3 linked regions of the Homo sapiens genome follow. The protein of the gene in region 1 purifies or fractionates together with the protein of each later gene. This does not show direct contact. Each region holds a gene or a part of one and is shown on either strand. Other genes may lie near its edges.

Region 1 (7,527 bases):
AGGCAGGAGGATCACTTATGCCAGGAACTCAAGACCACCCTGGGCAACATGGCAAGACCCCGGTTTCTACAAAAAAACAAAACAACAACAACAACAAAAACACTAGCTGGGCATAGTGGCACGTGCCTGTAGTCCCAACTACTCAGGAGGCTGAGGAGGGAGGACCAGTTGAGCCCAGGAGGTTGAGGCTGCAGGGACCTGTGATCGTATCACTGCACTCCAGCCTGGGCAACAGAAGGAGCCCTGTGTTAAAAAAAAAAAAAAGAAAGAAAGAAAGAAAAGAAAAAGAAAAGAAAAGAAAATAAATTCAAACTACTCTTGCTATGGAATAGTATTTTATTTGTCCTCAGATTTTCACCAAAATTTAGAAATTTTTAAAGAACTGGATGAAGGATGATCTAATCAAATGTATCAATCACCTCTACAGTTCCCGGGCAAAAAAAAAAAATGATCAACCATTTATAGGCAGCTTCAAGAGTGGAAAACTCGGGCAACCCCCTTTGGGTCCCCTCCCTTTGTATGGGAACTCTGTTTTCACTCTATTTCACTCTATTAAATCTTGCAACTGCACTCTTCTGGTCTATGTTTGTTATGGCTGGAGCTGAGCTTTTGCTCGCCCTCTACCACTGCTGTTTGCCGCTGTCGCAGACCCGCCGCTGACTCCCATCCCGCTGCTGACTCCCATCCCTCCGGATCTGGCAGGGTGTCTGCTGTGCTCCTGATCCAGTGAGACTCCCATTGCCACTCCCGATCGTGCTAAAGGCTTGCCATTGTTCCTGCATGGCTAAGTGCCTGGGTTCGTCCTAATCAAGTTGAACACCAGTCACTGGGTTCCACGGTTCTCTTCCGTGACCCACAGCTTCTAATAGAGCTGTAACACTCACCCCATGGCCCAAGATTCCATTCCTTGGAATCGGTGAGGCTGAGAACCCCAGGTCAGAGAACACTAGGCTTGCCACCATCCTGGAAGCGGCCCGCCATCATCTTAGAAGCGGCTGGCCACCATCTTGGGAGCTCTGTGAGCAAGGACCCCCGGTAACATTTTGGTGACCACGAAGGGGCATCCAAAGCGTTTGTCTCTTCCAGAATTGAAACTGTAAAACTACAAATCATTCTTCAAATGGAGCCCCAGATGCAGTCTATGACTAAGATCCACCGCGGACCCCTGGAACAGCCTGCTAGCCCATGCTCCGATGTTAATGACATCGAAGGCAACCCTCCCGAGGAAATCTCAACTGCACAACCCCTACTACGCCCCAATTCAGCAGGAAGCAGTTAGGGCGGTCATCGGCCAATCTCCCCAACAGCACTTGGGTTTTCCTGTTGAGAAGGGGGACTGAGAGACAGGACTAGCTGGATTTCCTAGGCCAACTAAGAATCCCTGAGCCTAGCTGGGAATGTGACCGCATCCACCTTTAAACACGGGGCTTGCAACTTAGCTCACACCCAACCAATCAGAGAGCTCACTAAAATGCTAATTAGGCAAAAACAGGAGGTAAAGAAATAGCCAATCATCTCTTGCCTGAGAGCACAGCGGGAGGGACAAGGATCAGGATATAAACCCAGGCATTAGAGCCAGCAACGGCCACCCACTTTGGGTCCCCTCCCTTTGTGTGGGAGCTGTGTTTTCACTCTATTTCACTCTATGAAATCTTGCAACTGCAAAACAAAAACAAAACAAAACAAAAAAGAGTGGAAAACTCTTCCATATCATATTTTATTTTATTTATTTATTTGAGACATAGTCTTGCTCTGTCACCCAGGGTGGAATGCAATGGCGCATCTGGGCTCACTGCAACCTCCGCCTCAACCTCCTGAGTAGCTGGGACTACAGGCGCCCGCCACCACACCCGGCTAATTATTGTATTTTTAGTAGAGACGGGCTTTCATCATGTTCGCCAGGCTGGTCTCGAACTCCTGATCTCAGGTGATCCGCTCCCCTCGGCTTCCCAAAGTGCTGGGATTACAGGCGTAAGCCACCATGCCCGGCCCCGTATGATATTTTAAATAACACACTCAACCACGCTCATCTGGGCTCAGGAAGAAGCCGAGTCACAAAGTTATTAGTTTCCCAAGATTCTTGGAATCTCTTATTCGGTACAAATGGAACCAAAAGACGCCAAACCGAAGTATTTTACTGAGTTACACTGAGGCAACGTAAATAAACTCAATCTATTGAATTACACCAAAAACAAAATTGTAATCAATTAAGACAACTTAGGTCTCAAGGCTAAGGCAACACCACCTCGAAATTCTCTCCTGAAAACGCTAAATCTCGGTGTGGCTGTTTAGGAAAGAACATCCTGTGGAAATAAAGTCATGATGTCCTGGACTACAGATCCCTCTCCCATCTGCTCCTTAGCTGTTCTACTAGGAAGAAGAAAATCTATTGCGTAGAGTTGTCATTATCGGCTAAACTCAGTGCTAGCTTTAAATGGATTGTCTTATTCAATCTTGACACTTGGAAATAGGCATCCTCACGTCCCTTTGCAGATGAAGAAACTGAAGTCGAGAGAGGTTTAAAAACTGGCCCAAGGACTCAACACTGTTTCTAATTGACACTCAAATCCTTGCTCGGACCTGAACGCACAAAGTGCCTCGGAGAAGATGTGAAGCGCTGTGTGCAACAGTGAGGAATTCGCTAACCAGCCCTGGACTTCCGTTTCCTCGCCATCAAGAGGTGTCTCGGCGCCAAAGCGATCAGCGCTGCCACCCCCAGCTGGACGTCTGCAGCCAGCGCAGCGGGAGGAGCCCCCTCGGGCACCGGCAGGACCGAGCGGGGGGTTTGGCTGGAGTCCAGCGCCCAGGCCCGACCCCCGCGCCTCAGCCCCCGCAGGCGCGACGATGAGAAACGCCGTGGGAGAAAGAAACAAAGCCCGAACCGTGCGCCTCCGTGACCCAAGGCAAAGGCGGCAGGACTACCAGCCCAAGGCCGCGTTTCCCAGGAAACTGGACCAAACTCAGCTCACCTCCGGCCGGATTCGCGGGCTGGCACCTCCCCTTCACTCTGTGCCTCAGTCGCCATCTTCGTCAGCAAACTTCTTTCACCGCCCCACCTTACGTCCCGCCCCCACATATTTGGATTGGCTAATATGTTTTCACCTCTTCCGTGCGATTGGATGACTCGACCGCCCCTCCTCAACCTGAACCGTTTAATATATTATTGGTCTATTCAAATGACTAACCGTCATTGGTCGTTCCCAGCCCTGGCGGAAAAAGAGGGAGGGGCGGGGAAGAAGACCCAGCCCCGAGGCCTGCCGGGAGTTGTAGTTTCTCATTTTGATGAACCCTTCCGATTCCACAGACCTTTAGGTTCAAGTCAGAAATCACCAGCCTATGCTCAAATTTTGTCCTGATATGTAAATCAGGGAATTATAGAACTGTCAACTTTGAAAGTGACTCATCACTTTCTAAAATGCAAGACTCCGTACCCTATATCTCAGCATCACACAATATACCCAGATAACAAACCAACTCATGTACCCCCTAAATTTAAAATAAAAGTTGAAAATAAATAATTTTTTTTTACAATTTTTTTAATTTTTTTTTTCTGTTGAGACAGGGTTTCACCATGTTGCCCAGGCTGGTCTCGAACCCCTGAGCTCAAGCAATCCTCCTATGTCAGCCTCCCAAAGTGCTGGGATTACAGGCATGAGGCACTGCACCCAGCCATAAATTAATTCATTTAATTTAATGTAATTTAATGCAAGACTCGTTCTCTGTCTTGACCCAGAGATAAATCCCTCAAGTGCAGGCAGGGAGTGGCAACCTAGAAGTACTTGCTTTTAAACGTATAGTTCAAAGCCTTCTTTCTTCAGATACTCAGCATAGCCCTAGCCATAGGTCATTTCTTTCTTCCTTTATTTCTTTCTTTTTTTTTTTTTTTTGAGATAAGGTCTCCCTCTGTCTCCCATGCTGGAGCACAGTACAATATTGCAGCATACCAACACACAGGGCAAATTTTTGTACTTTTTGTAGAGATGGGGTTTCACCCTGTTGGCCAGGCTGGAGTCGGTCATTTCTGCTTCAATACATTCACTCCCTTCCAACTTCCCAGAGAACCCACAGAGTTTGCCTTGTGATATGAACCATGGAACCAAAAGCTGCATGACTTTGTCCCAAACTAAACTTTAATCCTCAATGGTAGGAATAACCATAATTATCCTTGTCCTCCCTGCGGCACACACTTCTCCTAGGGATTAACTGAGGCAACATATGTGAGAACATTGTAAATTTTGAGCATTGTTGTTTTTTGTTTTTCCATATTGTTTTCCTATGCTGGACTTTTCTCGGGAATTTCTGTATTGATCCTTCTGATATCCTGCCACCTGGGGCTCTCCCTGCACTCTGCCTCCTTTTTACTAAACTGTACTGCACATGCTTCACTTTCTGAACTGTCTTAGGGCTTTTGCACATGTTGCTTTTTCTGGCTCGTCCATTTTTCCACTTTTTTGGCTTTCAGGTCGAAGCTTAAATGTCACTGGCTCAAAGATCTTCCATGACCCCCATTGTATAAATCAATTCCCTCAGTAAACTTTCACAAAGAACTCTGTACTATTCTTTCACAGTTCATATCACAACTCACAATTACATAGTCATTTGTGTGACTATTTATTTCATGTGAGGGTTCCCAGCTAGGCTTCCTGCCACAAGTGGGCAGAGACTATATTTATTTTGCTCCCCACAGTTTCTGGCACATAATGGCTGTCCAATAAATATTTTTGAAAAATATAAGCAAGTCCTCAAACTATTATATCCAAATAAAAAATCAAATCATATACTCTAATAGATTTTTTTCAATTGATGAATTAATACTAAAAGTTTGATAAGGGCTAGGCACAGTGGCCTACACCCATAATCCCATCACTTTTGGAGGCTGAGGCAGGAGGATCACCTGGGCCCAGGAGTTCAAGGTTAAAGTGAGCTATGATTGTGCCACTGAACTCCAGGCTGTGCGACAGAATGAGACCCTTTCTCTAAAAAAGAAAATAAAAGTTTGATAAATGTGTCCAAATAAAATTGCATTTAGTTTGATGTTTTTTATGTTTTTTGTTTGAAACAGAGTCTCACTCTGTTGCCTAGGATGGAGTGTAGTGGCATGGTCTCCACTCACTGCAACCTCTGCCTCCCGAGTTCAAGCAATTCTCCAGCCTCAGACACTCAAGTAGCTGGGATTACAGGTGTGTGCCACCACATCTGGCTAATTTTTGTATTTGAGTAGAGATGGGTTTTGCCACGTTGGCCAGACTGGTCTCGAACTCCTGAACTCAAGTGATCTACCCACCTAGGCTTCCCAAAGTGCTGGGACTACAGGTGTGAGCCACCATGCCCAGTCTTATTTAGTTTGATGTTTAACAAATCATGTTTATTGAGCAAATACATGGAAAGAAACATAAAATTTAGCAAACGTATCAGTGAAATTTTTCATTGAACCTCAGACAGCCTTAGAAAATCCAGGCTGGGATCACTTGAGCCCAGGAGATTGAGACTACAGCAAGCCATGTTCATGCCACTGCACTCCACCCTGACAGAGCAAGACCCTGTCTCAAAAAAACAAAAAACAAAAAACAAAAAAAGAAAAAGAAGCCAAGTGTGATGGCTCACGCCTGTAATCCCAGCACTTTGGGAGGTCGAGGCAGGTAGATCACTTGAGGTCAGGAGTTCAAGACCAGCCTGACCAAAATGGTGAAATCCCATCTCTACTAAAAATACAAAAAAATAGCCGGGCATGGTGGCACACACCTGTAATCCCAGCTACTCAGGAGGCTGAGGCAGGAGAATCGCTTGAAACCAGGAAGTGGAGGTTACAGTGAGCCAAGATCATGTGCCACTGCACTCCAGCCTCGGCAACAGAGTGAGACTGTCTCAAAAAGAAAAGAAAAGAGAAAAAAAGGCCAGGCGAGGTGGCTCGCACCTGTAATCTCAGCACTTTGGGAGGCTGAGGCGGGTGGATCACCCGAGGTCAGGAGTTCCAGACTAGCCTGGCAACATGGTGAAACCCTGTCTCTACTAAAAATACAAAAATTAGCCGGGCGTGTTGCCACACACCTATAATCCCAGCTACTCGGGAGGCTGATGGAGGAGAATCACTTGAACCCAGGAGATGGAGGTTGCAGCGAGCCGAGATCGTGCAACTACACTCCAGCCTGGGCAATAGGTTGAGGCTATGTCTCAAAAAAAAAAAAAAAGAAAGAAAGAAAAGAAAATCCAGGTTGTGTTAATTGCTATATATACAAAGCAAGGAACCCAAGGCTCAAATTCTGCCCTTCCCTCAAAATAAGAACTAGTTTTGTTTCTAGCCCCATGACACCCAGCACATGGACTGATGGATTGAATGAAATTGATGCTTTCACAAAAGAAAAACTGTTCAAAACTTTAAAGTATTACCACTGCAACTAGGAGGAACGCCACAAAACTATATTTCTGGTTCATTTTTTTTAATGAAGAATCGCACCTTTTTTTTTTTTTTGAGACAGAGTCTCACTCTGTCACCCAGGCAAGAGTGCAGTGGCATGATCTCGGATCACTGCAACCTCCGCCTCCCAGGTTCAAGCAATTCTCCTGCCTCAGCCTCCCGAGTAGCTGGGACTACAAGCACCCACCACCACACCCGGCTAGTTTTTGTATTTATAGTAGAGACAGGGTTTTGCCATATTGGCCAGTCTGCTCTCGAACTCCTGACCTCAGGTGATCCACCCACCTCGGCCTCCCAAAGTGCTGGGATTACAGGCATGAGCCACCACACCTGGCCAAATCACATGTTTATATAATGTTTGGGAAAATACAGCACAGTAGTTACATGGGCTCTGGAGTTAATAAACCCAAGTTCAAATCCTGGCTCCAGAGCTCCTAGCTATGTGACCCTGGATAAGTTACTTAGCTTTCTGATTCCATTTCCTCTTCTGTAAAATGAGGATAATAAGTCTCACAAGGGTATGGTGAAGAGTAAAATAAGATAATTTCTGAGACTGGGCGCAGTGGCTCATGCCTGTAATCCCAGCACTTTGGGAGGCCGAGGCGGGCGGATCACCTGAGGTCGGGAGTTAGAGACCAGCCTGATTAACATGGAGAAACCCCGTCTCTACTAAAAATACAAAATTAGCCAGGTATGGTGGCACATGCCTGTAATCCCAGCTACTTGGGAGGCGGAGGCAGGAGAATCGCTTGAACCCGTAAGGCAGAGGTTGTGGTGAGCCGAGATCGCGCCATTGCACTCCAGCCTGGGCAACAAGAGCGAAACTCCGTCCCAAAAAAAAAAAAAAAAAAAAAGATAATTTCTGAAAAGCTGCTTAGTAGCACAGTGTCTAGAACATACTAAGATTAGATCAATGTTGGAGACGACATGATGAATATTAAGAATGCTAAACTCGGCCAGGCGCAGTGGCACACGCTGGTAATCTCAGCACTTTGGGAGGCTGAGGCAGGTGGATCATAAGGTCAGGAGTTCAAGACCAGCCTGGCCAACATGGTGAAATCCCTGTCTCTACTAAAGATACAAAAAAATTAGCATGGTGTCACGCGCCTGTA
Region 2 (7,697 bases), on another chromosome or scaffold:
GGATGGTCTCGAACTGCTGACCTCATGATCCGCCCACCTCGGCCTCCCAAAGTGCTGGGATTACAGGCGTGAGCCACTGCGCCTGGCTTAGGTATTTTCTTATATGACCACTAAAGTGCAAAGCTTGTTTCCATTATTAATGCATCTTGGTTAAATAGTGCTAGCTCTTTCTTGTGTGCTGAGCACGTTGGGGACAGAAGGAGGAAGAAGAATTTCTACTTGGAAATATTCATAGTCTAGGAAACATAAACACCAAAACAGGCTGGGCACAGTGGCTCATGCCTGTTAATCCCAGCACTTTGAGAGGCTAAGGTAGGAGGACTGCTTGAGACCAAGTATTCAAGACTAGCCTGGGCAACATAGTGAGACTCTGTTTCTACAAAAAAAAAAAAAAAAAAAAAAAAAAAAAAATTAGCTAGGCGTGGTGTTGCACACCTGTAGTTCCAGCTACTCAGGAGGCCGAGGTGGGAGATGGCTTGAGCCCAGGAGGTGGAAGCTGCAGTAAACTGATGACACCACTGCACTCCACCCTGGGCAACAGAGCGAGAATTTGTCTCAAGGGGTTTAAAAAAAAAAAGTATAGGGCAAGATGTGTGTAGGTTATATACAAATAATATGCATCTTATACAAGGGACATGAGCATCTATGGATTTGGGTTCTGCAGGGTTCCTGGAACCAATCCCCTGCAAATAACGAAGGGAGGGACAACTGTATAAATTCTTGGTCAATGCGACAGTTGAAAGTAGCTAGAACCTTAAGGTTTATTTCTTAGATGGTGTATAGTTGAAAATCATCTCATTAAAATACAACTCACTTTTCTTCCGCAAACCTATACTACATGAATGAACTGCACTAAATGGACATTTATTCAAGCCAATAAATATCGAATTCTGATGTGTGCTTGACCCTCGGGACACAACAGTCAAGATAGATTTGGCAGCTGCCTTCATGGAGTTTCCTGTCTGGCAAGGAAGATCTTGACAGGCAGGAGTCTTTAGGTCTTAAGGGCTTTGGGAAACTGAAATCTAGCCCTGTGAACAAGAATAAACTGGATCTGTATTTTCATGCTGTCTGCTTTTAAAAACTGGCCATAATTGATGCTTATGGGGCATAGAAATCACAAGATTTTATAACTAGAAGGGACTACAGAACTTATTTGATTCCATTAATAACGTTGCAATTTGGGAAACTGCGGCTAAGGGATAGAAAAGGATTGATCTAAGATCACACAGCTCATTAGTCATTTCTACACAATACAGTGTGCAATAGAAATAAGTCTGTTTTGATGGCCAGTCATAATCACACCTCTTTACAGAGGCCCAAAGGACTAGCAGCACTTTTGTTTTCCAGTTCTGACACTATCAAGATCAAGTGCAGAGGGGTCTCTGCAGCCAAGGCCCCTCAATCTCGACCCCCTACACTGGGTTGAATTACATTGCTATGGGTTTCCACAGAATCCCCAATATCCCTTGATAACACATGCCATGCTTGTCATTCTTGATTAACATCTGTGTCCGTGGTGAGGAGAATGAATTGAAGGCAGCAACCGTGGCTGCAGGAGACCAATCAGGGCCTAGTCCAGGTGTCAATGATGGAGATGGAGAACAGATGAATTGGAGAGTTTGTTGTTGTTTATTTAGAGACAGAGCCTTGGTCTGTCACCCAGGATGGAATGCAGTGAATGATAATAGCTCACTGCAGCCTTGAACTCCCGCAGTCGTCCGGCGTAGCTGAGATTATAGGTGCGGTTTTGGCCGACTTCTATTTGAAGCAAAAGGTAAATTTCACTAACTCCTCTTCAAACATTACAAATGAATTTGTGCTAATTGAGTTATCAGCTGATGTCTCAAAAAATGAGACTCTACTTGATCTGTCACTATGGTTTTGTTCACAATTTTCATATCCTTTCAGCTATAAGTTTCTCTTAAAGAGAAATGGAAAATAATATAATGTAAACGGGGATAACTGCATAGTACTGACTGCTAGCTTGTGTTTGATTTTATTACTTAAAAATTGAATGGGAAGGAGGAAAATACTAGAACTTAAGACCACAGTTTCTAGGGGAAGCTAAGAAGAGAAGATGAGGATCATTGTTCAGTGAGGAATGTGGTTAGATAATGGTTTTCAGTGAAAGCTAACTTTGAAATTTCCTGACATTTGTATTGAACAATTGCCAAAAACTATCTGATATGCATCGCTAAGGCTTACTTTATCATTTAAAATGACAGGAGTCAAATAGGATGTGATGAGAAGTCAAATCACATTGTTAGCTCCATGAAAGCATAGATAACTCATTCCAGTATCTCCTAATAACCAGAACCTACAAAGAACCTACAACATGGTGACATGCTTGAATCGAAGCAGCTCAATGTTCTCATCCTTGGTACGTTTATTTTAAATTCACGAGAAAAAAAAAAGTGTCAACCCCTTTCTCTCAAAACAAGGAAAGGGTCTAAAAGTCAGTCTTTGAAATAGGGGTCTCCAGCCAACCCCCACGATGATACCTGGATTAAGGAATGAGGGATACTGGAAAAACAAAAACCCCAATGTATTATTCTGACGACTGTAAACAGCCATCCTATTAGCGATAACTAAAGAAAAAGCTGGGGAAAGTTAAAGGCAAAGTGATATACGGATGGCAGCTCTCAGTCTCAAAAAGGCCCAGTGGAAGAGTCTGAACTGACTCAGGGCAAACACAAACGCTCCCGCACCGGGTCCGTTGTGGCGTAAGCGGGTGACTGGAGCATCTTCCTCAGATACAGTTACGAGTTCCCAGTGGGTCAAGTTGCCCCCGAGCGGCGTCTCACAGCCCAGGGCTCTGACTCCCCCGCTGCGCCCCACATCCTTCCCTCGCCCCGGGGCACGCCAGACCCCTCCCTTCCCTCGCTCCCGCATTTCCGTCTCCTAGTGGCCAGGGCTGCCCATGACCCTGTCTTTCCCACTCCCCAAACCTTCGGTCTCCATCCTCGCCTTTACCGCTGCTCCAGTCAGCCGTCGAGTGCGCCGCCTCGCGCCTCACCCCAGCTGCAGCCACCAGCGCCGCCGCCTCCCACTCACACCACCACAGTGAGCCCCGCCGGCGGCGCTTCAGCCGCCACTTCCCCGCCCCCGCAGCCCGACAGCACCAATCAACACCCTGCTCGCAGTCCGACCAATCGCCTTCTCCCGTCACAACCAATCCTTCCGCGGGCTGCCCCTGAGCGACGTGGCTGCTGCTAGCCGCTGCCCAATTACCCGGATGGAATCCAAAGCAGGCCCACCCTGTCAGCCAATAAGATCCAGGAAAAGCAGATGTTGTTAACTGAGACCGCACCTGCTGAGAATTAAACAGCCAATTACAAGCTTCCCGGCGTCCTCGCAGACCACCTCTAGGCCAATTACCGAGGAGTTTTCTATCTTCTAACCCTTGGAGGAAAATCTGCGCTCCAGCAGCTGGGACCGAGGCATGAGAGCGTTGAATCATGAGTGGCACCGTTCGCAAAAATTGGTGTCTTTGTACAAAGACAGTGCCACAACACAACTCAGTGACCATCGGGAGAGCAGCCTCATGATGGGCGATGCTCCATCAGTTTTCTCTTGCGATCTTTTGCATAGATCGGTCCCGCCCCGCATATGGCGATGAGGACTCAAGAGACACGGAAAACGTTTTCTTTCTGGAAAACATGAAATAGGCTTTGTAGATGGACAGGAAGTCAAGGGACAAGCGGTGCGCCGCAGAGAGCGAGGACCCACTCTTCTATTCCTTTGCGGAGGCACGGACACACGGTGTGGCCCGAAACAGCGGCAGGAGAGTGAGACCCGGGCTCCGACCGCGGTGGTAAGGGGGCGGCGGGCCATAGGGGCGCCAGGGGCCCACCCTTCCCTGGGGATTCGAGGAAACGGGTCGAGGCGACAGCGTGAAGGCCTACGCCGGGGGAGGGGGTGGTGGCGGGGGGCGTTTCTGTGGGGGCGAGGAAGGGAGCGGGTCTCCGCAGGCGGAAGTTTGCTTTGGAAGATTTTATTCCAGACGCTGTCCTGGTCCCTGGACGGTTAGGAACGGTTGGGTCCTGCTACTGCCTCCGTGGGGCAGGGAGCCTCGCGAGACCAGCACTGCGCCCTACTCGGTCCACCCTGTCCCCGCTCCGCGCTAGGGGCTCACCCTGGGAACAGGGGTCGGGCGATCCTGGTCATTGGGGGATCTTCCGCACTAGCTTCCATCACAATACCTGGCAGGTGATGAGCAATAAATATTTGCTGAAAGAACGCAAGGTTGTATCTTTTGTCAATTAGGCAGATGCCTTTGGGCCTCAGGTTTTGCTTTCTATTAATATAAAAATGTGTATGCGTTTTGAATAAGTAATACATTTACATTCTACAAAATTCAGAAGAAACAAGGTTATTATAGTGAATAAATTTTCCTTCCTTCAAGGCAACTAGGGTTACCAGTTTCTTGTGAAAAATTTCACAAGATATTCTATAGTTAACGTGTGTATATGTGTAATATATAAAGTGTATATATATATACACACACATATATTTTTTTAACCCAGTTGATAACATACATACTATTTTGCAACTTTCTTTGATACAGTCTGGAAATGTTTCCGTAGCAGCATATACGTATCTGCCTCATAGTGATAGTTTCATAGTATGCCTGAGGGATATATGAAGATATATTTAACCAGTCCTTTAACATTTGATTGATATGCAAGGATACTTCATTTCCCTCTTGCATATGTGTATGATAAATACTTAGAAATGCAAGTGCCAAGTTAAAGAAATGTGTGCATTGTTTTTTCATTTGGATAGATAAAATTTTGTAAATTCCCTTCCTCCCACAAAGATTTTTATAATTTTAATCCCACCAGCAATTTTTGAAAATGATTTTAGTTAGTATTACCAAATTGCCTTCCCTGGAAATTTTACCAATTTTGTCTCCTGTCAGCAATGTATGAAAAGAACCTGTTTGATAGCACACTGGTGCTGTTAAACTTCCTGATTTTTGACAATCTGATAGTGTAAATGCTATCTCATTGCAAGATAAAATTTCATTGCTCTTATAAGTAAAGTTGAGCATCTTTTAATATATTTAAATGGCAATTTTTTTGTAAATTCTCTGTTTTTATATTCTGTTCATATTTTTATTGGTTATAGGGTCATTTCTTAATACTTGCTGTTTGTATATAAGTTAAAAGTATTTTCCCCGGCCAGGTGTGGTGGGTCACGCCTGTAATCCCAGCACTTTGGGAGGCTGAGGCAGGCTAATCACCTGAGGTCAGGAGTTCAAGACCAGCCTGGCCAACATGCTGAAACCCCGTCTTTATTAAAAATACAAAAATTAGCCGGTTATGGTGGCAAGCGCTTGTAATCCCAGCTACTTGGGAGACTGAGGCAGGAGAATCACTTGAACTGGGGAAGCGGTGGTTGCAGTGAGCCGAGATTGCCACTGCACTCCAGCCTGGGCAACAGAGCGAGACCCCATCTCCAAAAAAAAAAAAAAAAAGTATGTCCCTTTTCCCAGTTTGTTCTATGTATATTGTTTATACATATAACAAGTATTTTCCCTTTTCCAAGTTTGTTCTATGTATATTGCATATTTTGAGGCTGGTCTCCAACTCCTGACCTCAGGTGATCAGCCTGCCTCAGCCTCCCAAAGTGCTAGGATTACAGGCCTGAGCCATTGCCCTCAGCCTGTTTATGGTTATTCTTTGCAAATGTTAAAAATTTTTATGTAATTGAATTTATCAATATTTTCTTTGATAATTTCTGGGTTTCTTTCTTTCTTTTTTTGAGGCAGAGTCTCATTCTGTCGCCCAGGCTGGAGTGCAGTGGCATGATCTTGGCCCACTGTAACCTCTGCTTCCCAGGTTGAAGAGATTCTCGTGCCTCAGCCTCCTGAGTAGTTGGGATTACAGGCATGTACCACCATACCTGGGTAATTTTTGTATTTTTTAGTAGACTCGGAGTAGTTTTGCCATGTTGGCCAGACTGGTCTCAAACTCCTGGCCTCAAGTGATCCACCCGCCTTAGCCTCCCAAAGTATTGGTATTACAGGCGTGAGCCACTGTGCCTGGCCAACTTCTGTGTTTCATATAATTTTTAGTAAAGTCTCCCACTATTTAAGATTATTCTTAAAGCTCCTATGTTTTTTTAAAAAGTACTTTGATAGTGTCTTTGTATATGTAAATATTTGATTCATCTGGAATTTATTTTGGTGTAAAGGTGTGAGATAGAGATCCAATTTTGTTTTGTTTTATTCAAATCCTTCTTATTGAATAACCCATGTTTTCTCCATTGTTTTTGAATGCTACCTTTATAATACCAAATTGCCATATGTATTTGGGTCTATTTCTGGATTTTTTTCATTTTGTTCCATTGATCATTAATTTTTTTTTTTTTTTTTTTAGACGGAGTCTCACTCTGTCACCCAGGCTGGAGTGCAGTGGCACGATCTCGGCTCACTGGAACCTCCAACTCCCTGGTTCAAGCGATTCTCCTGCCTCAGCCTCCCGAATAGCTGGGACTACAGGTGCCCACCACCACACCTGGCTAATTTTTTGTATTTTTAGTAGAGACGGGGTTTCACCGTGTTAGCCAGGATGGTCTCGGTCTCCTGACCTGGTGATCCGCCCGCCTCGGCCTCCCAAAGTGCTGGGATTACAGGCATGAGCCACTGCGCCCGGCCTAAAAATTTTTTAAATTGTATACATTATGGTTTTTTTTTTTACCACAATTTAAAAAATTAATTTATAATATACATGCAGAAAAATGCACAAATGACAAGTATATATCTTGATGAATTTTCACAAATGGAATACATTTGTGTAACCAGCAGCAGATCAAGAAACAGAACATTGCTAGTGCCCCAGAAGCCACTTGTGTGTTCCCTCTCAGTCACTGCTCTTCTCAAGGACAACCACTCTTCTGACTCCTGATACCATAAACTAATTTTGCCTGTTCTTGCTTTTTATATAAAGAGAATCACAGAGTATGTACTCTTTTGTGTCTGGCTTCCTTTGTTCAAATTATTTCTGTGAGATTCAGCCATATTGTGTATAGTTTTAGTCCCTTCATTCTGACTACTGTGTGGTATAATATTGTGAGGCTATATTGAACCATAATTTACTCTTCTATTCTGTTACTGTTATTTTGGCTGGAATCACATATTTTTAGATTATCTAAAGGAGAATGTATGATAAGAATCTTCCTATCTTCCTATACATTCAAGTCATTGGTACCCCATCAGTAGAATTTTAGTTTTCATTATGTAGAATTTACATACTTCTTATTAAAATTATTCCTAGGTATTGAGTGCCTTGATTGCTATAGCTATTTTTACTTTAAAAAAAGTAAAATGGTAGTTCAAATCCAAGGAAGAATGTGTCCAGTGTTGCTATAAAAATACAGACCTACTTTATGGGTCCATCTTCTTCTAGCTCCAGTGAAGGTGGGATGGGCAAAAAAGAGGAAATGAAGTCCAAAAAGGGGGTTACACTTTATAGTTAAACCACAAGAGGAATTTATTTCTTTTTTAAGACAGAGTCTTGCTCTGTTGCCCAGGCTTGGGGCAATGGCATGATCTCTACTCACTGCAACCTCCACCTCCCGGGCTCAAGCGATCCTCCTGCCTCAGCCTCCCAAGTAGCTGAGACTACAGACATGCACCACCACACCCGGCTAATTTTTGTCTTTTTAGCAGAGATGGGGTTTCACCATGT
Region 3 (7,756 bases), on another chromosome or scaffold:
TGCCATGTACTGTTGCCTCTGCCCAGAACCCCTGTCTCTCCTTCACTATAGGTGGCAGAATCCACTCATTCTGGCATTGGCATTGGCTCATATGGGGAATCACATTGATTTGCTCATCTGTTTACATGCTTACAGTATTCACTACCGTACCACTCCAGAGACTGTGTCTTATTCACTTGTGAATTACAGCCTCTAACACAATGGCTCGCAGAGTAACCCTCAATATATAAAACACGGAACTGAATTGAAACTGCACTCTCCTCTACTATATTTTTTAGTTTTTAGAAAATGCTTTTAATGGGTCTTATCTTCTAGAATGATGAAATGTCTTTAAAGCTGCAGTGAAACCAGGGCAATAAGTTTAGAGCCATAATTTCTTGAAAGAGAGTGATGAAAAATCATCGCTTAATTCTGAGCCACCCTACTGAGATCACAGCTTGGACACTGAGCTTAGTTTTATGCACCTTATGTTCTAGGTAACTGGAAGATGATTGCAAAAGATGGCACTAAGAAGGATTAAGTGTGATTATTTATGAGGCACAGTTAAAAGCAGACAGCATGCATATGTTCACAAGCTATAGGGAATAGACAGATCTCTAAATATCTGATGAACAAATCTACCCAAGGAATACATTTAACACAGAACAACAAAGGGAGAAATAAGATGACAGAAAAAAAAAACATAGGTGAAAAATTTAGAAAATTTTCAGCACATCATAAGATGGCTCTTACTGGCAACCAGAATTCTCCAATGGTAGCCAAAAAGCTTAATGATCACAGGTTAAGAAATGTGTGAAGCAGACTAGAGCATTTGGGTACGACTGAGTTTCCCAAACTTTCTATACTTTGTATTACAAAAATAATGCATTGTTTCTCCTTTTTTCTAATATAATATTTTTGTATTAGATATTATTTTTTCAAATAAATTTGTAATAAATTACAAATAAATAAAGATTCTTGTCTGAAGGTCTGAATTATGACCTGTAACATATGGCTAAGATGAATTATGCAGAGGGTTGAACTCTTTGACCTCTACGGACTTTTTAGTTTTGAAATTCTGTTTCCATGGTAAAGATTTCCTTGTAGGCCATGTGTGCTTGAAGAGGATGCTGTTGGAAGTGTTTGACTAAAGCCAGAGAACATTATGTGACCTCCAGTTTTTCTACACACAAGGATGGCCCCAAGCTTCGTGATAATGGGGGGTTATGGTGTAGTTACCAGTGCCTCTTACCTTTATGATTTAGTTGAATGATACAAATGGTACAAATGTCAGGCTCTTCTAGTACTTACCCTGTTTACTTTTTGTAGCCATAATATAGTCATTTGTTAACCACATATTTATTGAGTGCTGACTAATGAATAACACAAAAATAAAGTTTGTTTTTTTTTTTTTTTTGAGATGGAGTCTCGCTCTGTCACTTGGGCTGGAGTGCAGTGGCACAATCTTGGCTCACTGCAGCCTCTGCCTCCCAGGCTCAAGTGATTCCTTGCCTCAGCCTCCCAAGTAGCTGGGACTACAGGTGTGAGCCACCATGCCTGGCTAATTTTTGTATTTTTGGTAGAGATGGGTTTTCACCATGTTGGCCAGGCTGGTTTCAAACTCCTGACCTCGTGATCTGCCCACCTCGGCCTCCCAAAGTGCTGGGATTACAGGCATGAGCCACCGTGCCTGGCCTGAAAACAAAGTTCTTACCTTCATGGAGTTTACCTTTTGTTTGAAGGAGACAGATGATAAACAAAAGGACAAATAAATGTGGGTATAATTTCAAGTAAAGATATTTGCTATGAAGAAGTACTATAATGGCACAATCCACAGAAGTCTTTCACAAAATTGTCTTCTGGGTCTAAAAGTCACCCAGATCTTGATGCTACCTTCTTAAAATATCCACACCCTTTACTCATGTTTCAAGACCATAAAATGAAAAACACAATGTTTTTAACACGTTTCTTTAAATGTCCTTTTCCCCTTTTCTTAATCTTCTTTCTCCTTGCACTACCATGCCCCAAAGCTCCCAAAGCACCCTCCTTAAATGCCCAAAGAGTTCCTATTCCCCAGTGTAAATGAGGCTTCTGCTATTGTTTGGTTTGTATGTCTTAGTGAGGATTTAGAAAGTACAATCTATCTTAATTGTTGATGAGTGATAGAAGGTGGTAGGCTGCTTGGGCTTTTTGTATTTATCTACTTAGTTTCTGACTTATTCTTATTCTGTTAGTTTCAGTGACATGAGCTTGTGGTAAACCAAAGCCACCTGTAGCAGATATTATTGGTGCCCCGCCAGTATGCTATATTCCCTTACTATTTCAGCGTATACCAATGTGACTCTTAATTCTTCTATCTCTGGCTTTCTGTGGCCACTGAGGCAACTCTGTCTACTCTTGGAGCATTGCAGACAAGCCAGGGTCTTAATAATCCCTGAAAGCTGCCCCCAATCATTGACTGACGGTAGTTGGTGTTTAAACAACCCAGTTATCTTGTCCTCTTGGTGGAATCACTCAGTCTAAGGTACATGTTCCATATTGTTTCCCAGAGATTTCTAGGAGGATTAAGTTCTGGGTGCCTCTAGCGGTAATGTGCTAGATAAGGCATCTTTTTGGTCTTCTCTTCCCTATTTCACTTTCTTAGTCTCTTACTGGTGTTTCCTGCGATAACCTCCTAAATAAAATACTTGCTCTTGAATACCTGTCTCCAGATCTGCTTCTGGGAGAACCCATACTAAGGTGGTTATTAATTCAGTCAAGTTGCAGATCAGACAGTAACCTCCCACTGATTGTCTTGGCACTTGAAGGTCCTGAATCCAATGCAAGTTCTATGTCTTCATGCTCTTTGTGAATGTATCTGTTGCTCAAGGTCGTGGGTGACCTTGAGCCCAGCAGTCAGCATTATCCACAGCTGAAGTAATACCTATGTGCTCATATTAGGCTATCTGACAACAGTGCAATAATCATTAGACACCACTGTTTAGACCCTGAGTATGTTCATGACATTTGCCTTTTGACTGCTAAGTAGAAGATGTAATGATTATAGGCTGATGCTTTCTCAGGAGGAGGAAAGTTATTGAGCTTTACAGTTTCAAATGCTTCTGATTTTCTTCCACGTTTAGTCTGGCTGCTGACACATGTGTTGAAATCTCTCATGTCGATCAGCTTGAGAATAGCTGGGACTGCTGAGCTAAGTCTGTGCTCATAAAAGCAACAAAGAATTGTATTACAGGAAATGACCCCAAATTGACAGAAGATTAGGCTAGGAAGCCTGAACAGGTGTTTTAATCTCTATGCACAAAATCAGTCTGTACATATATTGCTCACATTCCTGCTGTTTTAACTATATTTTTTTTTTCAATTTCACTTTGTTATTCACAATTTGATAATATTTTATGTGGCCATGGTGTCTGTGTGATGAACTATAATCCAATGTGACATTCTCTGAGAGTCAAGCTTCCAAGGACATCAGATTTTCACACCAGGACACTTTGTAGGACACCTTGCTACTCTCCATGGGATTCAAATATTAGAAATAATGAGAGATCTAAGACTTGATGTAATTGCCTGCATGTAATGAATCAGGCCAAATAAAAAAGTGAGAGACAGAGAAAGGAAATGGTGCTAAGGAAAATGGGGACCTATCTTAGTGTTTGTCTGAGAGAAAACTGCTCTTTGTTTTTCCCGATGTAATGGCAAGAGTCTGCAGCCAGGAATCTAGTCCTTGCTTAGGAGCTGCATGACCTTGTGAAAATTACGTAGGTGTTCTGCAATTTGTAATTGCATTTATTGTAAAATTAATTTTACTTTTCATACGTCACTAGACAGAGCATTTTGAGGTTAGGAATTGGGTCTGAATCAATGATTTCTCCAGCACCCACATGGCATTTGGCACAGAATACATCAATAATGATTTTGGATTAAACAGGGGAACAAGCACAAGGAACCATGGTGGTCAGAAACGGGTTGATCTGCACCAGAGAAAGGGAGACTAGGGGAGAAAGGTCACTCTAGATTTCGTTCAATTATTGAAAATACGGTGTATTTACTATGTGCTGGGCACTTTTCTAGGTGCTAGAAAGACTACAGTGACCAAAACAAAAATCCACATCTGCAGGGATCTTGCATTCTAGTGAGAAAGTAAGATGGTAAAAAAGATAAATACGTAAATTTTATACAATGCTTCGTAACGACAAATGCTAAGGAGAAAAACAGCACAGAAAAGACAGAAAGGAAAAGAGAAGGGGCGCATGTGGTGCAATTTTGTTAGGATGCCAGGGAGGGCTGAGCGTAGTCGTAAATGACCACATTATTTGATGGATCAAGCCAGGGACTGCAAGTCTGTGTTTCTGAGAGACACATAAAGAAAAGAAGGCTTAAGGAATCCAGAAAGATCCAGAGTGGGGAAATGAAACGAAAAGAAATCCAGCCAGTGGGAAGTCGTGAAGGGATAGTTAAACGCGTTTTGGGAGGAAAGAAAAAAGCAAAAGTGCGGTACAGCCTTTCGTTACACGTGAAAAGAATCATGTTTCTTTTTCTAGTTAGAAAAAGCCAAAGATTGTGCGATTTATGCCCCAAACCCCCTTGTAAGGGGATTCTCACCTCAACTTGTCTTCTGTGGTCAGTGTTTCCCGCCCCTGAATCAGGGTTACTGTCACTATGGCTTTCAATTGGCCCGGCGTAGGCGCATGCTCTGCGCGTATTGGCCTCCGCTCCTGTCCCCAGACAAGCGGCCATCTTGGGTCCCGCCCCTACCGTGGGGTCTTCTGGGAATTGCAGTCCCCGCTCTGCTCTGTCCGGTCACAGGACTTTTTGCCCTCTGTTCCCGGGTCCCTCAGGCGGCCACCCAGTGGGCACACTCCCAGGCGGCGCTCCGGCCCCGCGCTCCCTCCCTCTGCCTTTCATTCCCAGCTGTCAACATCCTGGAAGGTAGGGGCGGGGAGGCAAGCCCAAGTGGAATACTGTTTCTGGGGCGCGGGTCTGGGTTTCCACGCGCGTCAGGTCATCACCCCGGAGCCCAGTGGGGCCGGCGCCGCTCACGGGGCGGTGGGCTTCTGTCCCGAGTACTCTTCCGCCCCACGAGGGTCTCAGGGTGGGGACTCGGGCCCCCCAATTCCCAAGCACCGACCCTAGCCCTAACCCGTTCCTCCTCCACCGTGTTTATACATTGGGGAAACTGAGGCACGGGGCCACGCCAGCGGGTCCGGGGACGCCACAGCTCTTGGCTCTGGGGGTGTAGTCGGCACCCGCCGTTTTGGGATGGTTCGTCAGTTTCATAGACAAGTAGCGAAAATCCGTCCCAACAGGTCTGTGTTAAACACGCAGCTCTGGATTCCCCTAAGGGGTTGCTGAACACGTGCCCAGGACAGGAGCAAACCGGAGTATAGAGAAGGCAGCATTTTGGGAGATAATTTTACATTACTACTTCAAAAACAGGCAAAGAGGCATCGAATTTATTGTTGTGGGAGAACTCATCGGTACTTGGTCGGACTTTCTTACACTTATTTTATGGTTGTTGTTTTTATTTTTAGCGTCAAAGGGGGGAATTTTAAAGGTATATCCAAGTTGGTGGTGGTGGGGGGTAAGGAGGCAGGTTAGTGGAACTTGAGATGCATCTGCAGATTTCTCTGTAGGCTCACATTCTGCCCTCGCTGTGTTACCTTGGAACAGCCACTCACAGCGCTTATCTGGGAAACAAGGAGCTCAATGCTCCCAGGTCAAGTGGCCAAAGGATGTTGCCTGAAGCCGAAATCTAAATTGAGGTTATGCTTGTGAAAGTTTACCACTTGCAGATTTACTGCTATTATTATTCTGGTCTCTCAGAAATGTGCTGGGACCAATAGAAAATACTCACAGTGGTTGTTTTAGTAAGGTTCTGACCTGGGCCGGGCCCAGACTACCAAGGGTGGTCCCTACTCGCACCTGATGTTAAGCCGGATCTACCTGAACTCTCCCTCCTTGGCTTCAGCCTGCGGCCTGAGGCCTTGGCCGCGGAGGCTTCTGGGAGTTGCAGTCCCGCCTCTTGTTTCTCGTCGGGCAGGTACTCCACCTCGTGGCGTGCCATTTTGCACGGCGAGATGTCTCCTGGGAGACGAAGTCTCGCTTCTAGCCGTTCTGTAGAGCAGCCGCTTGACTCGGAACTACAACTCCCATGTGGACCTGCGTTCATGGCTGCCGGCCTGTGTCCACCTGCTGCAACCTGGACTAGAAATATTTAGTAAAGAAAGAAGTCTAGGGTTTGTGTGTGTGTGTGTGTGTGTGTGTGTGTGTGTGTGTGTGTGTGTGTGTGTGTGTGTTGTTATTGATTGCATATGCTGTTCTAAGTGTTAGATATGGGATTGTTGTATACGGTGTTCCAAGTATTAACGTACATGCTTCCAAAACCACTAACACTTGACCATTTAGAACCTGTTCACATGATCTCTTTTTAATACTACATTTCCCATTTGTATATGAGAAAAAACTTGAGAAGATAGCCCATGATTACACAGCTAGCAATATAATATATATTCAATAAAATATATGTGTTATAATTTAATCCTCTTAAAAGCTATATGAGAGTGAGAACCATTTTTATATCAACTTTACAGATTAGAAAACTAAGGCTAGGAAAGTTAAGTAACTTGTTCAAGTTAAAACACTGGTGAATAAAAGGACTGAGACTGTAAGCCCTTCTGCTTAACAGTCTCTGCTTAGAGAAAGACCTTACCTTACAGAGCTGAGGAGGAGTCCAACCTTTCTGGCTACAGAATTTGGAATCTTTTAATTATACCATGCTGCCTCTGTACTTAGATACTAAACATTTGAGCTGCAAAAACCTTTGAGATCATTTAATTCTAATGCAAAGATCTTGGAACACTTCTTGGCCTATAATAAAGATTCCATATATATATGTATATAGTTTTAGAATACCTTTATTTTAGAGATTAGGAAACTGGCCCAGGTGGTAAAGCAGTTTGCCCAAGGTCACACAGTTGGTTTGTGTCAGAGATTAGACTAGAACCAAGCATCTTATTTTCAAGTCCAGGGTTATTTTCATTCCACCAGCAGTCAGCTAGCAGGAACACCAGATGTGTAGCTCTTTAGATAATGGTTTCTCCTCTAATTTGCTCTTTCAAGGCCACAGACCAGGACCAATTGTTATAAATTATCTTATTTATTATTGGTAAGGTTGTAATACTTCATGAATTCAACAAATGTTTTTTGAGCTTCTTTATATGGTCATCTCTCTTAAGGTGCAAGGACCACATAGATGATAAGGACTTAATGCATTCAGACTGGAAGGACCTTATAAATAATCTAATCTAACTCTTATTTTATAAATGAGGAGAGTGTGTTACGAAGTAGTCTGCAATCTTCATCTCATGCCCTCATGTCAAAAGTATCCCGTTTCTGCAAGAAGGCAGGTTTCTGGAGTCCTCACAGTAGTGTGGATAACCTTTTTAGGCTTATGCTTTTCTATTTGGTATCCTTGTCTTGGCCTTTTTCCTGCAGCCTTTGATAGAATGCTTTAGGAAATGTTTTTGTGTCCCCATCTTTATTTGTGTGTTTATGCAACTTCAACATGCTCTGTTTCTATTTTGGAAGTTAGTCTGGTTTTGGCTCCCATTACTCTTTTCTCTTTTGTTCTTTCAGACACTTGAGAACAAATTCTGACACTATGTTTGCATTCACATGTTAAAATCTGACCCTCTAATATGAACTCTCAGAAATCTATCAAGTTGTGACTTTCATTTTGGAAGACATATTGGCCCTTTCAATTATGTATTCACAGATA

Evidence for each region.
Region 2: the proteins of ARHGAP19 (region 1) and TDRKH purify together in Homo sapiens (affinity purification with mass spectrometry; 2 studies listed by BioGRID and IntAct, with this or other methods). This does not show direct contact.
Region 3: the proteins of ARHGAP19 (region 1) and FHIT purify together in Homo sapiens (affinity purification with mass spectrometry; 2 studies listed by BioGRID and IntAct, with this or other methods). This does not show direct contact.

What each region holds. Positions count from the first base shown.
Region 1 is NC_000010.11:97,289,603-97,297,129, forward strand, and holds the start of ARHGAP19 (rho GTPase-activating protein 19), read right to left. Parts: upstream 3,036-7,527; 5' UTR 3,026-3,035; coding exon 2,970-3,025; intron 1-2,969. UniProt on the Homo sapiens protein: GTPase activator for the Rho-type GTPases by converting them to an inactive GDP-bound state.
Region 2 is NC_000001.11:151,787,429-151,795,125, forward strand, and holds the start of TDRKH (tudor and KH domain-containing protein), read right to left. Parts: upstream 3,073-7,697; 5' UTR 2,952-3,072; intron 1-2,951. UniProt on the Homo sapiens protein: Participates in the primary piRNA biogenesis pathway and is required during spermatogenesis to repress transposable elements and prevent their mobilization, which is essential for the germline integrity.
Region 3 is NC_000003.12:61,248,453-61,256,208, reverse strand, and holds the start of FHIT (bis(5'-adenosyl)-triphosphatase), read left to right. Parts: upstream 1-4,756; 5' UTR 4,757-4,908; intron 4,909-7,756. UniProt on the Homo sapiens protein: Possesses dinucleoside triphosphate hydrolase activity. Cleaves P(1)-P(3)-bis(5'-adenosyl) triphosphate (Ap3A) to yield AMP and ADP. Can also hydrolyze P(1)-P(4)-bis(5'-adenosyl) tetraphosphate (Ap4A), but has extremely low activity with ATP.